Homo sapiens: one gene and its partners. The main gene of each other region encodes a partner of the protein of the gene in region 3 in a complex. Each region holds a gene or a part of one and is shown on either strand. Other genes may lie near its edges. A codon is read from its position in the direction of its gene.

What was found.
Region 1: PCNA (region 3) and MCM2 share a complex: the UniProt entries of both Homo sapiens proteins name them as parts of the replisome complex.
Region 2: the proteins of PCNA (region 3) and LIG1 are in contact, whole or in part, in a cryo-EM structure (PDB 8B8T), measured with the Homo sapiens proteins. Residues at the interface, in NP_002583.1 of Homo sapiens: Met40, Ser43, His44, Val45, Leu47, Leu126, Gly155, Arg210, Ala252, Pro253, Lys254, Ile255; in NP_000225.1 of Homo sapiens: Ala361, Gly363, Arg364 (codon at 1,947), Ser368 (codon at 1,935), Ser388 (codon at 1,875), Thr389 (codon at 1,872), Gln390 (codon at 1,869), Arg391 (codon at 1,866), Leu392 (codon at 1,863), Met393 (codon at 1,860), Leu394 (codon at 1,857), Val432 (codon at 1,306).

What each region holds. Positions count from the first base shown.
Region 1 is NC_000003.12:127,611,877-127,615,529, forward strand, and holds part of MCM2 (DNA replication licensing factor MCM2), read left to right. Parts: intron 1-3,653. UniProt on the Homo sapiens protein: Acts as a component of the MCM2-7 complex (MCM complex) which is the replicative helicase essential for 'once per cell cycle' DNA replication initiation and elongation in eukaryotic cells.
Region 2 is NC_000019.10:48,135,740-48,139,392, forward strand, and holds part of LIG1 (DNA ligase 1), read right to left. Parts: intron 1,950-3,653; coding exon 1,783-1,949; intron 1,346-1,782; coding exon 1,269-1,345; intron 387-1,268; coding exon 295-386; intron 41-294; coding exon 1-40.
Region 3 is NC_000020.11:5,114,318-5,116,976, forward strand, and holds the end of PCNA (proliferating cell nuclear antigen), read right to left. Parts: intron 1,256-2,659; coding exon 1,132-1,255; intron 1,046-1,131; coding exon 966-1,045; 3' UTR 636-965; downstream 1-635. UniProt on the Homo sapiens protein: Auxiliary protein of DNA polymerase delta and epsilon, is involved in the control of eukaryotic DNA replication by increasing the polymerase's processibility during elongation of the leading strand.

The DNA of each region.
Region 1 (3,653 bases), on a different chromosome or scaffold from region 3:
TTTTAGTAGAGACGGGGTTTCACCGTTTTAGCCGGGATGGTCTCGATCTCCTGACCTCGTGATCCGCCCGCCTCGGCCTCCCAAAGTGCTGGGATTACAGGCGTGAGCCACCGCGCCCGGCCAACAGCTGACTTTTTGTATTTGTTTTTATTTTGAGTTAGTTATCATCCTTGAGGGATCCGGAGACTTCACATAGAAATCCGGATGCTTTTTGAAAATCCAAGATCTGTGGGTGCTGGCTCTGTGTTCCTCTCTGGTAACGCTGACGGAGCTGAGGCATAGCTGCCCTTGCAGGTAGGGCCTGTGTCCCCAGGTTTACCCCGTCCCCTACTCTGTCAGTTTCATGGCCCTGCCTGCCTTCCGTGGGCCCTGGACACTGATCTGGTAAAGTATTAAAGAGATCAGGGTCATGCCCAACACTTAGAGATTTTAAAGAACTAACAGAAGCAGCATGCAGTCTGAAGCCAGACTTTTTAGGTTTGAATTTTGGCCTAATCCTTAGGATGGTCAGATGAGTCACCCTTATCTATAGAAATGAGAGGATGAGAGTAAACACTCATAGAGTTGTTATAAAGATCAAATAAATTAGTGCATATAAAGTACTTGGCTGTTGGCGAGTGCTCAGTATCTGGCTGTTACTGTACATGGCTACCAAAGTTAAACTATTTGTACAAAAACTGGATGGAAGAGCCTGTGACAGGCGTGTAGAAAGCATAAGCAGCCAGTAGGTAGGACAAAAATAGCTTTGAGCCTGATGCTTTAGGCATTTTACACACATTATCTCAGGCTCATGGTACCCATGCAGGTGGGTGCTTTTTCTCCGTTTGCTGGGTGGAGCTCACAGTACCCACTCAGGTGGGCACTCTATCCCTGTTTGCTGGGTGCGGAGACTGAGGAGTGCTAGGAAGCAGCACACCTAGAGCCAGGAGGAGCATGAGCTTTGGATTCAGATGCATCTGGGGTCGAGTCTTGCCTCTCCTCTAGGAGAAAATATTTTGACCTGAGCCTTGGTTTCCTCTGTAGGATCGAGAGAAACAAGGTTATTATGAGGATTACATGAGGTAATTCATGGAAAGCGCTGTTATTCCCTGGCAGGTCTGGGATTTGATTCTGCCCCACTTTCCAGCCATTAAATTAGCCTGCTACTCTCTCCTGGAGTAACTGGGTCAGCGGTGGAAGGCACAGCAGGCAGTGTAGGCATTCACACATTTGCGCTGCTTGCCCTCCAGTCCCACAGGGAAGTCCCCCTGGATGCAGTGGTTGCTTTACAGGAGGGGGATTGAGTTGGGCAATCTGCCCTGCATAGCAAGCAGGAAGCTCTTGGCCCTGGAGGGAGACATTACCTCATCCTGCAAGGTTGCTCGCTACAAAAATTATACGGGGAAATGAGCTGGGTTAAGAGGAGTCAAGGATTGGCAGTCTTGGCACATCCAGCACGAGGTGTGTTGGGGCATGAGAGGTCCGTGGAGTGGTCTGCCCAGCATCTGCAGCACAAAGTAAGAGTTTCATAAGAGAGTCATTATACTTACTGAGGACTTAGTATCTGCTTGGCATTGTCTAGGTAATTTCTAGATAGCAATGTTCCTGTGAGGTTTCATCTCTGCCTGTTTTACTGATGAATAAACTAAGGCACAAAAGGTTAGATAAGTTGGCCATAGTCACATAGCAAGTGGCAGAGTCAGCAGCCTGGCTTGAGTCCATGCTCCCAGTGACTGTATTGTGCCAACAGTTGGTGAGTTTATTTGGTTATTGTGAGTTCCATGGGCACTCTGTGTTACATAAGGCCTGGCCCACATTTTAAAACATTGTTACAGAAAATTTCAAACAGGTATGTAGAATGGTGTAGTGAACTTTGACCATTTGTCTTAGTCCATTTTCTGCTGCTACAACAGAATACCATAGACTGGGTAATTTATAATGAACAGAAATTTATTGACTTATGGTTTTGGAGGCTGGAAGTCCAAAATTGAGGGCTGGCATCTGGTGAGGGCCTTCTTGCCATGTCATCCCATGGCAAAAAGGTGAGAGTTAAAGAGACAGAGTGAGAGCCCAGAGGGGGCCAGACTCATCCTTTTACAAGGACCTACTCCCTGGATAGCAGTGCTTTTATCCTCCATTCATGAGAGCAGATCCCTCATGGCCTGATCACCCCTTAAAGGTCCCACCTTTTAATACTGTTAAATGGGGGATTAAGATGCCAACACATGCTTTCTGGGGGGTACATTCAAACTGTAGCACTCTACCCAGCTTCCACAGCTGTCATAGTCACAGCCAATCGAGTGTTCTTAATACACCACCCATTCACCCTTGGTATATTTCAAGGCAAATTCCAGGCATGCCGTTTTTTTCTGTAACTACATCAGTATGTATATGAAAAAGAAAAGACTCTCTTTGAATAAACCTAGCCACAATACCATTATCTCACTTTAAGAGGTGATTAACAATTCCTTAATATCCAATATTCTGTTGTTGTTCACATTTCCCTGATTATCTTACCCCTTCCCCCTGTTTTTTACAGCTTCTTGGAGTCATTATCCAAATAAGATCCATAAGTTGTGATTGGTTGATATCTCTTAAGTCTCATAATCTTTAGATCTTTTCTCCATCTCTTTTTTCCTTGTAATTTTTTGTGGAAGAAACTGGGTCATTTGTTCTGTTGAGCCTTGCAGTCGAGATATTGCTAATTATGTCCCCATTAGACACACACCTCTGTCACCTGTGTTTTCTGTAATTTGGCAGTCAGGCACTGAAGCCTAGTCAGGTAAATGCCTGCTTATTTTCTTTGACTTACTAGTTTTAAAAATAATGAATTGGTTCCCAGGTGACCTGGGTATCATAACAGACAAATAGGCCCGCCGGGTGTTGAGGTTTCCACGCTGCAGGTGTCATCCCTACAATGCTCAAGTGTCCCTTTTTTGCCAGCGTGAACCTATTCATGTTGGCTCCTGAGTTCTGTTGACATGACCCTGGTTGTCTTTGAGTGATTTTTTGCTTTCTGGTAGAAGATATTGCAGGCTTCTCTTGTACATTTCCAGCCCCGGACCTGGAATTGGACATTTCTCCAAGAAGCCCCGTGGGAAGTGTTACTTGCTTTCAGAGGGAGATAGGAGTTAGAGACACCTCTAAAGCTGCATGAATTTGATGGTGCAGGCAGGACATACAGGATGCAGCCTGATGGGGGTGTCTCCCCTCCACCTTCAGGGCTGGTTTTCCTGCCTTAGTCCCCTCTCCCCAGGCGAGGGCCAGTGCTTTCTGAGCTTCTTTGTCTGTCCTACAAGGAGGGAAGGATGTGGGTGTGGCCAGTGCAGGGGGGTATGAAGGCTGAAAGCTATCAAAACATGGCTCTGCTGCAGGTGGAGTTGGAAGCAGTCTCCTACAAGCAAGAAATGTCTTTGATGTCTCTAATTCTATCTAAAATTCATGAAGATTTTGCTCTCTCCCTGTCTCTTTCTTTCTCTCACACACACACTGAAATAGAAATGTTCCAGTGACTCACTAGTTGGAATTACTTCCTGGTGGACACATCTCCCAGATGTGCCACATTTATTGCATTGACGAGGCAGGCACTTGCATGAACTGTCGCATTTGTACCCACCCTTCTGTGAGTTGGATGTTGCCATCTCTCTTTTCCATATGAAGAAACTGAGGCTTGA
Region 2 (3,653 bases), on a different chromosome or scaffold from region 3:
GTCTTGCCCTTCCCAGCATCCACCATGGCTGGTGGGAATTCTAAGAAAAGACCCACCAGAGGCTTTGGAAGGCACCCACATCCTTGGCTACACCAGGGTGCAGTGGGTGGTTTGCTGTATGGCAAGGAATGCAGATGCCGCGGCCCAAGACGCCCCCTCCCCCCCACCCAGGAGAGAGGAGCCTGGTATGGCAGGGGCCCGCTGGGGAAGGGGCGGGCATGGGCCTCTGAAGAGGAGGGGGGAAGCCTGAGGTAACTCCAGCGAGGGATGCAGAGACGGGCCACAGGAGCTCACCTTGGCCCGGGGGCGTGAGGCTCACTGCCTGGGAGAGGGCAGCCAGCACCGACTGCTCTGCCAGCCCAAGGCGCAGCCGTCCGCTCAGGGACCTGGGGAGAGAGCAGGCCAGGGAAGGGGGCTTGTCTGCACCTCCCCAATCTTGCCTCCTCCCTTCTCTGATCTCCTCGACCTTGATGTATGTAGACCCTCTCCTCAAAAACCAGAAGAATCTTCAGAGCCTGGAAGGGACCCCAGATATCACACAGCCCCATGTGACAGATGAGGAAACTGAGCCAGGCAGTAATGATCCTGCCCACTAGCATAGACTGGGGAGGGGCACAAGTAGGTGCACCAGCACCTCCCATCTCAGCTGCCCTGAGGGGTTGGCGAGGCTTGAGGAGGATGAGTCAGGGAGAGAACTGAGCCTGGCGCCCGCCCTGGTGACTGTAATGGTCAGGACCCCAGCATGGTCCTTGCTTTGAGCCAGTGGCAGGAGACAAGTGGCTTAGTTTGCCTCCCCATGTCTCCATTTCCCCTTCTATAAACTGGAGGTGAGGGTAACAAGACCAGTCTCACAGAGTTGCTGGTAGGAACTGATGAGGTAAGGCACGGGGCACAGGGCAGGGCTCCCAAGAAATGCTCCATGATGTGAGCCCTCAATGGATTTGCTCTCACTGTCATGGCAAACAAACCCTGGCTTCCTGCTGCAGGGCCCGCGCCCAAGCCGAGGCAGACCTCACCAATCAATCACAGCATGCTTCACCCACAGGGGCCCAGGGGCCTTCTCTAGACAGCACTACCAAGGGACAGAAGCTGGCCTGTGAAAGGAAATGGTGTCCCTTCCCACTCTTTAGGGGCTGGGCCTCCTGCTCATGCTTTTCTCATCCAAGGATGGTCAGGGCATTTGTGATGATTCCAGCTGCCAGTCCCTCCCTCCTTTCACCTCCGAGCCTGCAGTCCCCCTCTGTAGCCTCACAGGCCCACACGCTTACCTAGCGATGAACCGGGCTTCTGAGTGGCGGCAGGCCACAAAGAGGCCTTTGATGATGTCTATCTTCTTGGCTGTGGACTGGAGAGTCAGGGGAAGAGCCGTCAGTGCCTGGTGAAGGCAGGGACCACACCTCCACCCCACCAGCCGTGCTGCTGCCCTGCATTTTGGAATACCTGCCCTCCTTCCCTCACCCCATCCCCATGTCCCAGCTCCCATGGCCGCCCACTCTTAGGGCAGTAAGAACGAGCTAGCTCTCCTCCTTGCCTCCCTCTCCCTTTATCCAGGAAGTATTTACTGAGTCCTGTCATGTGGCAGCCATGGCATTAGGTCTGCTAGACTCTGAAGAGGAGACTCCCCTAGGATTGGGTGCAGGAAGGAGGAGAGGAAGCTGTGCACCCCATGAGAAGGACTGATGCGACCCAGCTGATGGTCTACCCAGAAGCCTTCCTGACACACGCGTGGCCTCAGGTCCCCAAGATGTCTGGGGTCCGGGATGAGCGGCCCGCCCCACTCACAGCACTGCCAGTGAGCCTGGCGATGTCGCGGAACTTGCTGAAGACCCCGGAGGCAGTGAGCGGAGGTGGTGGCAGCATGAGCCTCTGGGTGCTGCGGCTGTTCTCGGCCACCAGCCCCACGTCGCCTTTCTCGGCTGCCTCAGCCCGGACGGACTCCAGCTGCCGACCTTCAGGGGAGAGCGCGGGTGGGGGTGTCGAGGGTGACAGTTGTGGCTGCGTGTCTCCCTTCTCTCGCGGCCTGGATGAATTTTCTCCAGCTGTGTGTGCTTGTGGCGAGTCCCTGCACCTCCCTGTGTCTAACGCTCACCCACTTGGTAGAAATGGCTTGGGGAACGTGCCCCCAGCCACGCTGGCTGTAGGAAGTCAGCAAACATGCACGTGGAGCCAGGAAAGCGGTGGATGAACGAGCATGACCACACTCAGGGGAGACATCTGGGCCGGTGTCATCAGGGCGCGGATGGGATTTAAAGCCACAGGCGGGACAAGGTCACTAGGGAAGTGAGTGTGGACAGAGCAGAGAAGGCCAAGGGACCCTTTCCTCTGGCGGGTCATGAACATCTCTGGCAGTGACCAAAGACCCTTCGGCTTGTTTTGGAGCCACCAGCTTACACACGTGGGATGTGCTCTGGCCCCACTTACTGTCCAGAGCTGGGTCCCATGGGCGCCTGGGTGTAAGAGCTGGGGAGATGGAGCCTCAAGTCACGGTGACAGCTGTGACAAGCAGCTCTCAACCTATCAGAACCAACACACCCTTGTCACCAGATACTGTGTGTCACCTCTTTTCTGGTCTGAAATAAAATGTGGAGATAACATAACCTGCCTACACCTATCGAGATAACGCCCTAACCCTAACACAGAAAAGAATGAAAGGGAAAGCAATCCGTAATGAACGAACAAGTGCGCGTTTCAGTCCACAGATGCTCAGCCGCGGCACAGAGCACATGAAGGTGGGCCTCGCGCCTGAAGCGAAACTGCCACAAATGGGAGAGCCGACAGTGTGAGCCTCACCAATGGGATGTTATCGAATCACACATCAAAGGGGACGGGATTCTCCAAAGTGGCCAACAACTCACAACAAACCCGGGACTTGGACAGCCACGGGGGCCACAAGGCGGCACGGAGAGCAGTGTGAGTGTGAACACGACCCATCAAGGGTGGAGGCATGAGACAGTGGAAGAGGCCCCAGCTGCCATGGATTGTTGGGCAGGAAAGCCAGCATCTGCAACTTCTTTTGTGAGAAAAACAGATCCTTCTTTGTCCAAGCCAATGTAGTTGGGTTTTCTGTTACCTGCAGCTCAGAGTATTCTTAACCGACCCCGTGTGTGCTGGGTCTGGTATGACGTCAGTGCTCCCGAAACACATCTTGAGTGAATGAGTGAGAAAATCTTGAGTCTCATCTCCTCTGGCTCCCATAAGCCCGTAACTCTTTCCTGATCCAAGTCAACCTTTCTCAGTCCCTCTGTCCTCTCATGAAAGCCTGAAACCCCTGCCTTCCCTAAATGTTGGTGCCCATGGCCCTAAGCCAGCTCCAGTGCTCCCAGCACATCCTCTCCCCAGGCGGATGAGAACCCACCAGTGGGTGGTCATCCCTCCTACACTGACCAGCCCGAACCCTGGGCTCTGAGCCAGACCTGGTGAGCCTCAGACCCGTTTCCAAACTTCCTGGATGGCCCTGGGGGCCCACAGATAGAGGTTGCTCATGCCTGCCCCACGCTGGGGTGATTAATGCCCCCTGCAGGTGCCTGCCCCTCACCAGGGTCCCAAGCTGCCGACGGCTTTGTCATCCATCCAGTCACCCAGGGAGATCCTGGAGGCATTCCTCCTGCCTCCTCACCCTGACATCCACTGTCTGCCAGATCTCTCCTGCCCTC
Region 3 (2,659 bases):
AGTTGATCCGCCTACCTCCCAAAGTGCTGGGATTACAGGTGTGAGGCACCGTGCCTGGCAAAAAATTCTTAATACACAGCACACAGTGAACTTGTAGCTATTAGTGGGAATGTTTTTAAGTCTTTCTTCACAACTTCAGGGCTTTTTCACTTTCTTGGTTGGATCCAACATCCGTGGAATTTAAGACATCTTCATCCTTTGAGTGAAGTTGCAAAGTGTACTTATACTAGAGAAATTTTGTACAACCATACTCCTTGGGCCCCATTACAGCTCTACTGAAACATCCAAGACTCTTGTAAGATTCCCCAGGCTAAAAAGAAACACTCCATTAACATCTTATAAAGCCCACACGACTTTCGGTACATTAAGCTTCTGAAGAGTATTAATTTTTGCCAAGTAAAATGAAATACACAGGATTTGTACTACTCTCTCACTTGTTCCTTGAGCTCAAATTGGAATAACAAGTTTGACAAGTGAATCCCCTAAAATATCTAGTAACCTACTGTATTTGAAATCCTTTTGATCTCCATCAGGCTGCTCTAAACTGAAAAACCATTTAAACGAAAGGGTAGCTGTAGCTGGGAATTCAGTAGGATACTTCCAACAGTCCTGGTCAAAATGAAGACACTGCCCTGTGATGTTTGAAATTCAAGTAACTTTATTTAAATTCAAAAACAATTCTTAAAACTGCATTTAGAGTCAAGACCCTTTTGTATTATAAAAATCACAAGTATTTCTAAGAGACAAAAATACTTCTAGGTTAACTAGACCAGATCTGACTTTGGACTTTATTCTTTAAACAAATTGCAGAGAATAGAGAAAAAAATAGGTTATTTACAGAAAACAATATCTACATATGTACTTAGAGGTACAAATTTGGTGACAGAAAAGACTTCAGTATATGCTGGCATCTTAGAAGCAGTTCTCAAAGAGCTTAGTTTTATTTTCTTGAATTTTAAGAATGCCTAAGATCCTTCTTCATCCTCGATCTTGGGAGCCAAGTAGTATTTTAAGTGTCCCATATCCGCAATTTTATACTCTACAACTGAAAGACAGGAAGATGGTTAATTACTGAGGAGTATGTATCACATATGACTACCTACAAAACAAGGTTCAAATTTATTATCTTACCAAGGGGTACATCTGCAGACATACTGAGTGTCACCGTTGAAGAGAGTGGAGTGGCTTTTGTAAAGAAGTTCAGGTACCTCAGTGCAAAAGTTAGTTGAACTGGTTCATTCATCTCTATGGTAACCTACAAAACAAAAGATTCATCATTGAAAAACATCAAGAAAGTTGCAATCTATTAGCTCATTATATATTTATAAAAACCCACAAACACTTGTATTGGTCACTTTGGAGGGAGCTATGAAAATTTTGAAGACTGATACATAAAGCAAAAGACTCGATTATCTAGCTTGTCTTTCCTATAGCTATAATTTAGATAACCAAATTATATAATATGGGAAAGCTTTTCTTTATGGAAGTTTTTCTAATAAGCAGCCAATAAGTGAATAAAACGTATTAATTTCAGCTCTGCAAACTCTAATTAATGACTTAATGGATCTAGACAATGACTATTATAGCTGCTAACATTGCAAACACATCCAGACACCCTGTGCCTCCTACTAGAGGCACACACCACCACCTATATTCTTGCTCTCTCACCCCCGAAACAAAACACCCTGAATATCAAGGCTCCAGGGCTATAGCTACCAGTCTGTAGGACACACAGGGTAGAGGAATTTATGTATACACAGGAATGCAATCAGCAAAATCCAAACTCTGGAAAACTTAATAAATGATCTAATTTCTTCAACAAATAGATTGTAATGGAAGGGGGAAAATGAAATTAGGGGAAACCAGGCTAGGTGTGTTGGCACACACCTGTAGTCCCGGCTACTTGGGAAACTGAGGCAGGAGGATCACTTAAGCCCTGGAGTTTGAGGCTGTAGTGAACCGACTGCACCACCGCACTCCAGCCTGGGTGGACAGAGCAAGACCCTGTCTCAAAAACAAAGAAAAACAGAAAAAGAAAAAAACGAGGTTGGCAGGAGTGGAAATGTGATTCAGGAAACAGATAAAGAATCAGCTCCTAGACTTTATTAATTTAAAAAAAAACCTTTCAACTGAATTTTACCTTTATTTAAACTAAATGTTGACTACCCATTCAAGGGACAAGAGAGCAATATATAGTATTTATTGTAAGCTTATAATATGCCACACACAGCATATGCTAAGCTCTTTAATGCTACCGTATTTAATCCTAACAAGGTTATGAGGTTAGGACCTTTGTCCTTGATTTACAAAGTTTTAATTTATGCCCAGGTTAGCGAGTTTTTTTTGTTTGTTTAAGATGGAATCTTGCTCTGTCACCCAGGCTGGAGGGGAGTGGCATGATCTGGGCTCACTGCAACCTCCGCCTCCTCGGTTCAAGTCATTCTCCCATCTCAGCATTCCAAGTAGCTGGGATTACAGGTGTGCGCCACCACACCCGGCTAATTTTTATATTTTTAGTAGAGATGGGGTTTTGCCATGTTCTTTCTATTTTGGTTAAACAAGGGCTCTCTAGGTACTCTCAAAGTTGCATGGAGTCTGCTTTCTAGCCTTAGTGAGAAGTCTCCTTCCTGTTTAACCTTTGATTCCTACAGCCTGTGAC